Linked DNA regions of Homo sapiens. The protein of the gene in region 1 purifies or fractionates together with the protein of each later gene. This does not show direct contact. Each region holds a gene or a part of one and is shown on either strand. Other genes may lie near its edges. The genes, in order: ARPC4-TTLL3 and ACTR3.

Region 1 (3,476 bases):
CTGCATTTTCACCATGACCTTTTCTAGTGGGGACAGGCAACCCCACCACTTGAACAGATTGCCACTGAGTCCGAAGAACCCCCGGGCCCTGGGTAAGACCATTCCCCCAAAACACCCGAGTGTTCCAAGGCGATTTATTCCTGCTCTCCAGGCCCCTCCCAACCACCTGGATCAGCCACCCCACCAAAGAGCCACCAGTAGCAAGTAAAAGCCACTACTCACAAAGTATTGTTTAAAAATACACAGCCAAATTAGCTGGGCACGGTGGTGTGAGCCTGTGGTCCAGGCTACTCGCGAGGCTAATGAGGATCGCTTGAGCCCGGGAGGTTAAGGCTGCAGTGAGTTATGATCGCACCTCTGCACTCCAGCCTGGGAGACAGAGCGAGATGCTGTCTTAAAAACAAAGACACAAAAAAAGCACTTTGGGAGGCCGAGGCGGGCAGATCACTTGAGGTCAGGAGTTCGAGACCAGCCTGGCCAACATGGTGAAACCCCATCTGTACTAAAAAATACAAAAATTAGCCGAGTGTAGGGGCAGGTGCCTATAATCCCAGCTACTTGGGAGACTGAGGCACGAGAATCGCTTGAACCCAGGAAGCGGAGGTTGCAGTGAGCCGAGATTGCACCATTGCACTCCAGCCTGGGCAACAAGAGCAAAACTCTGTCTCAAAAAAAAAAAAAAAAAAAAAACCCAGCCAAATGAGTATTGTCTCCTCCAAAGTAGTCACTCTGCCTCACAGAGTGACTTATTTCAAAGATGACCTGATTTCAAAGATGCCAGGACTTAAGCCCAGGTTGCTCTCTCCAGCGCCCACGCTTTTCCCACTGCAGTATTCTGCCTTTGCCTTCAAGCAGTCACCTCTCGGGGAAAGAACTAACACATGTCCAGCACTTAACAGTTTGCCCCATACCGCTACCTGCCCAGCTCCTTTAGTGTTTACACCAACCTAGCAAGGTAGGTGCTATTATCCCCATTTTCCAGCCGAGGTATCAGGAAGTTTAAGGAAGTTGCCCAAGGTTGCACAGCTCAGAAGGGGCACAGCTGGGATGCAGACCCAGGTCTGTTGGACTCTACCCTGTTTTCTTCTCACTGCCTCTGGAGGAGGAACCGGGAGGGCTCCGTCGGCCTTCACCCCATTCCCTCCATATCCCCCCATCCTCCACACGTACCTGTTAGGGCAGCTAGGCCACCTTGGGCCCCACCCCAGGGCCTCACAGCTTCTCTTGCTCCCACAGCCCGTCACCACTTCCCCAGCCTCCACACCAAGGCCCAGCTGCCTTCTCCCCATGTACTCCGACACCAGGGCCAGGTCCTCAGACGACAGCACAGCAAGCTGGTGGGCACTAAGGCCCTGTCGACCACAGGCAAGGCCTTGAGGACTCTACCCACGGCTAAGGTCTTCATTTCCCTCCCACCGAACCTTGATTTCAAGGTGGCACCCAGCATCCTGAAGCCAAGAAAGGTGGGCCTCGACCTGTGACTCACACCCAGTGGACAGTGCTGAGCACGGGGTCAGGGCTGGAGGGCACAGGCAGAGGGCAGCTCCCAGGCTGGCTGGCACCCCAAGGGAAGAGCTGGTCTCCCTCAGAAGCCCCTTCCTCCACAGACTTCTGATCATCTCCCTCTTCTCCCCTCCTTTCACACCGAGGCTCCTGCTCTCCTGTGCCTCCGAGGCCCCCAGCTGGAAGTGCCTTGTTGCCTCTGCCCTTTGAAGTCGGAACAATTCCTAGCACCTGTCGGAAGGTCAAGGCCAAAGGCAAATTCAAGGCCAGACTGTGACAAACCCAGGGCTGAGGCCTGCCCCATGAAGAGGCTGAGCCCCCTGAAACCCCTGCCCCTTGTTGGTACATTCCAGAGGCGCAGGGGCCTGGGGGATATGAAGCTAGGGAAGCCCCTGCTTCGATTCCCCACTGCCCTTGTCCTGGATCCAACACCAAATAAAAAGAAACAAGTGAAGTATTTGGGGCTTGACTCCATTGCTGTTGGAGGGTCAAGAGTGGATGGGGCGAGGCCGTGTACCCCAGGGTCCACAGCAAGAGCCTGAGGCCATCAGCAGCTCCTCCGTGCAGCGAGGCCCAGAATTCCCACCTAAGGACAGACATGGGGCTTCCTATTTAGGGACTCCCCCAGCATCTCCGATCCAGGGGTGGGGAGCGTGAGCCTTCACTTTACAGATGAAGAAACTGAGTCTGAAAGAGGAGGCATGGCTTACCCAAGATCACGTGGCAGTGAGTCGACGCAGGGACATATTGCCAGAACTGCCGAGCACTGGGAGCCCCCCAACCCCAGAGAACAAGCCAAGCTAGCAGAATGACACCTACCGGGCATAGGAACGTTAATGCCATGAGACAGGGGAAGGAATTGGCCTTGCCTAAACCTCAGCCCTTCTGCAGAGGGCATGGGTCTATCCCTTCTTCAGCAAGGGGCCAAGGTCACCTAAAAATGAAACATCCAATAAGCCACACCCACCTGAAGAAAAGTGTGGCACTGCTTAGTTGTAGTGGGTTGAACTGTGGTCCCCTGAAAAGAGATGTCTACTTGGACCCTGTGAATGTGACCTTATGTGGGAAAAGAGTCTTTGTAGCTGGGTATGGTGGCTCACACCTGTTATCCCAGCACTTTGAGAGGCCAAGGCAGGAGATCGCTTGAGCCCGCAAGTTCAAGACCAGTCTGGGCAACATGGTGAAACCGTTTCTACAGAAAATTAGCTGGGTGTGGTGGCACACACCTGTAGTCCTAGCTACTCGGGAGGCCTAGGTGGGAGGATTACCTGAGCCTGGGAAGATCAAAACTGTGGTGAGCTGTGATCACGCCACTGCGCTCTGAGCCTGGGAGACAGAGTGAAACCCTAAATCAAAAAAAAAAAAAAAGGTCTTTGCAGATGTAAATAAATTTAAGATCTTAAATGAGATAATCCCAATGACCAGTGTGGTGCTTACATTCAATGGCAAGTGTCTTCATAAGAAAGGATTAAGGGCCGGTGGCTCACTCCTGTAATCCTAGAATTTTGGGAAGGCTGAAGTAGGTGAATCACCTAAGGTCAGGAGTTCGAGACCAGCCTGGCCAACATGGCGAAACCCCGTCTCTACTAAAAATACAAAAATTAGCCGGGCATGGTGACATGTGCCTGTAATCCCAGCTACTCGGGAGGCTGAGGCAGGAGAATTGCTTGAACTCCAGAGGTGGGGTTGCAGTGAGCTGAGATCGCGCCACTTCACTCCAGCCTGGGCGACAGACTGAGACTCTGTCTCAAAAAAAAAAAAAAAAAGGAAAGATAAGGCTGAGGCAGGAGGGTTGCTTGAGTCCAGGAGTTGGAGGGTAGCCTGCTTGGGCAACATACTGAGACCCTGCTTTAAAAACAGAGATTCAAAAACAAAACAACAACAAAAACATTAGCCAGGTGTGGCGGCACGTGCCTGTAATCCCAGCAGGAGAATCGCTTGAACCTAGGAGGCAGAGGTTGCAGTGAGTAGAG
Region 2 (3,821 bases), on another chromosome or scaffold:
ATTAAATCACTGGCTTCAGTTAGTGCTTTTGCTACCATGCTCACGTTGCTTGATATCTAATCAATGTTACAGACTATTTAGTTCACCTTGGCCAACCTCTACATATTTCCAGCTGAAGTTGCTTTAAGTTGAAAAAACGGTATACAATCACAGAGGAGAGATATAAAGAAACAAGAATGCTGCTACCATCCTATTAGGGTTCACTCCTCTAAAAGTAGAGCAAAGGGATATCAGAACATACACAAGAAGGGCTGGAGTTTTGTTTCCCCAAATAAGTTAAGCGTAAGCTTCAAGAAAGTTTTTGATCTTCATGTTTTTGTAGCAAACAGTTAAGAACATCTCTGTATAAATATGCCTGAGATTGTCATCAAATAGCTTTATAAACATGTCTTTCTAGCTTATTCACTTAACTACCCAACCATCGCCGGTGGAAAAGACATATTTATGACAATGCTAACAATATTTTATTGGGCCAGGAGCATGACATCTTTACTGCTTATCAATATAGTTCTTTATCAAAAGATCTTTAATAAAAGCAAAGTGCAGAACAGTATATACAGTAAGTTCCTATTTGTGTAAAATAAGAAAGCTACATTTATTTCTACCTACACAGAAAATTACAATACAAGGACATCTAAGACATTCCAAGTAGTCTGTGTAATGATGGAAAAATGAGACAGGCTAGGGAAAAAAACTTACTTTTGCTAATCTACTCTTTGGTACTGTTTGAATAGTATTTTTATAATGTTTGTGAATTACTTTTCCAAGTAAAAAAAGGAGACCTTTGATACTGATGATGATACTACTGTAGGATATAGTTTGTCTTTTACAATCCCATACTCAAAGAATGAAGATTCACAAAAATTATTATAGGATTTTAAATATTCAGATCCACTCTAAACAAAAACTGAAGTTTACTCCCCAATTCTATCTTTAGAGTAAAAACAAAAAACTAAACACTTTATATTCTTTCACTTTTGAATAGACGTATTCCAATCCTAACGTGTTATTTTCATGAATAATGGAGTTCAAGTGTTCACTGATACTGCTAGTAAAAAGCCTATAAAACATTTCCCATTTTCTCTTTCTATAAATAACTGGTAAAATTTTAAGGTCACAAGAAATTTTCTACCATACACATTACAGAGATTTCAATAACTCCCAAATCTCAACAGAAACAGATATCACATACATAAAAACAAAATAGAATTACATTACTTAAAAAAAAAAAACATTAGAAAAGGTAATTCAGTTTTAATTTATTTTCATCACTTTTTCTTCATAATCCAGATATTTTAAAATGCAAAGAAAATTAACTTTCAATGATATGTTCAGGGACTGGCACTAAAAAAAATTTTCAGACTGCAAATGAGTTATACAAATGAAAATATCAAATGGAGATCCAGTTATCAAAATGAAAGCACTCAACATATTAAAAGTTCACAAGTATTTGTATTGAGCACATTACAAAAGTCAGCTTGCTAACTGTTGTGATTTTAAAGAACTATTGCAGAAGTCTGAAGAAAATAGATTTATTAGTTAACTTATAAAGAGATTAAAGAGGCTGAAACAAGTATTAAAAAGAAATTTGTGCCTTTATTAGAATGTTAGGCTTTAAATATGCCAATTTTGATAAATTATTGTTGTTGTTTTGTTTTTTATAAGAAATGACACTACAGAACTGCAATACTGGTCCAACACTCTTGTCTTTACTCTTCTTTTAAAGCAAGAAACAGAATGCGAGTAATCAGAAAGCACTAGCAGGCATCAGTTAATCCAAGATACTAGCTCTTAGTTCCAAAAGCACTTGCAAAGAAAACCTTTTGGGGGGAAGGGGTGGAGAGGGATGGAAGCACTCCATAATAACTGGAATCCCACGAGTGTGTATGCCAAGTCTCATGAGGCTATTTTTTGAATTTATCCTTTACTTGGTCATGGTTTTTTCCCTCAAATACAATTTTTCTTTGACTTTTTTTCCTCAAAGTATAAAAAGTATGAAATATAAACAAGCTCTTGCACTGCACACTTAGAAGTGTACAATTCAAGCATTATAGAGCTATCTACACACTGATAAATCCCATCGAATCTTGGATAATTCATTAATATACAAAATATCAGGGCACAGAAAGAACTAAAACCCACTTCTTTTTGTTACACATAAGATTCAAATATTCAATCTAAAGAAAAACACAATCACTTTCGCTCTCTTCTACATCTGCATGGTGATACACTTATTAAAATATTCCTGTATAATCATGTTTGGTGTTACTATTTCAAGTCAGGTTTAAAACCTCAAAACCAGCCATCCAGACAAAACAGGTAATCAGAAAGATTATCTCTTCCCCACCTCCCTAACCCCAATAACTATGAAGCCAATTTTACGACATGACTCCAAACACTGGATTGTGACGACAAATGCTAGGTCCAATTTCTTCATAATCCTTTTTGGTGTGGCATACTTGGTAGAACTCAGGCTGAAAACAAAAAATATGTATTTTTATAAGGGTCAAAAATCTACCATCTTGAAGGTATATTGAAATAAACTTTAAGAGTGATGCTTTAAAATAGATGTTAAGTCTAAAATGTTTATTATTAGTCCATTCATGGCATGAAAGCTTAGAAATTCTAGCAGCCATGACTTAAAATCAGCTATAAATCTTTATCGGAACTCCAAAAGAGCAATTAACTCCTGTCCCCAATCCTTGTCTCACACACCTGCTGCGAGGATTCTGAAATTTTGAAAAATGGAAGGTTCTCAAATGTCCAGTCTGTTCTGTTGAGACTTTCCCATACTTTCATTGCACCAATAATGTAAAGAAGCGGCATTCGCCTAACTACAGATAAAACTACTCCTAGTCATGCTATGACTATTTTTCGTCTAGTTCTAAGAAATGTCTAGATCATTTGCCTTCCTCATTCAAGGTCTGGAAAAGATAGACTGTTCCATGCTGTGTTACCTCATTTCTCAAGGCAAAGTCACAAACTCAACTAGGTTATATGGCCCAATTGAAGAAGACTAAAATTGAGGAAAAAAATAACTTTCACCTCTTATGTTGGAAATGGTTTTAAATCCAAAGTTGTACAGTTATTCAATAATTCAGATAAAAGCTCCTTCATTTTAATATTGCATGCACTACCAGAACAAAGCACCAATACTTCCTAGGTTAATGGTATTAGAACACTAGAACACCTTTTTAGGGGGCTTTAAAGACATTTTAATTTGGGGACAGGATTCTTAGAATAATTCCCTTTATTCAGTGTAAAACATCATACTTTCTATGCAATGAAGCTTAACTTTTACCTTAATGTTTTTAAATACTTAAACAGAACAAACAAGGACCTTCTGATGACTAAATTACCAGTTTTAACAGAACTTTCCCTACAGATAAACTTTAAAACATAGTATAAAATGGTCACTCTAAAATAATGTCTAGCAAGCTAAAAAAAAAAAAAAAATTAAATTCAAATGACTTCCAATTAAATTTAAATTACTTCCAATTTTTAAAATACTACAAACACATATATACAAAGTTTCCTATTATTTTGAGATACAATTTAAAGGAATTTGCTTTGTTCTTCTCCAAGTATTGATGGACTCTTCTATCTTAAATATATATATATAAATTTAAACATAAGCTTCAGCCAGGCGCAGCAGCTCACACCTGTAAACTCAGCGCTCTTTGGGAGGCTGAGGTGGAAGGATCACTTGAGCCCAAGAGTTTGAGACCAGCCTGGCCCAACATAGTAAGACCTCATCTCAATAAAAAATAATAATAATAATAAAGGCCAGGAGCAGTGGCTCACACCTGTAAACCCAACAC

What was found.
Region 2: the proteins of ARPC4-TTLL3 (region 1) and ACTR3 fractionate together in Homo sapiens (co-fractionation; one large-scale study listed by BioGRID). This does not show direct contact.

What each region holds. Positions count from the first base shown.
Region 1 is NC_000003.12:9,833,445-9,836,920, forward strand, and holds the end of ARPC4-TTLL3 (ARPC4-TTLL3 fusion protein), read left to right. Parts: coding exon of another isoform or gene 1-92; intron 93-982; coding exon of another isoform or gene 983-1,059; intron 1,060-1,236; coding exon 1,237-1,377; coding exon of another isoform or gene 1,378-1,481; 3' UTR 1,482-1,649; coding exon of another isoform or gene 1,650-2,045; 3' UTR 2,046-2,912; downstream 2,913-3,476. Other genes in the region: tubulin monoglycylase TTLL3, read left to right, coding at 1,237-1,463, 1,650-2,045.
Region 2 is NC_000002.12:113,956,013-113,959,833, reverse strand, and holds part of ACTR3 (actin-related protein 3), read right to left. Parts: intron 2,475-3,821; coding exon 2,379-2,474; 3' UTR 1-2,378. UniProt on the Homo sapiens protein: ATP-binding component of the Arp2/3 complex, a multiprotein complex that mediates actin polymerization upon stimulation by nucleation-promoting factor (NPF).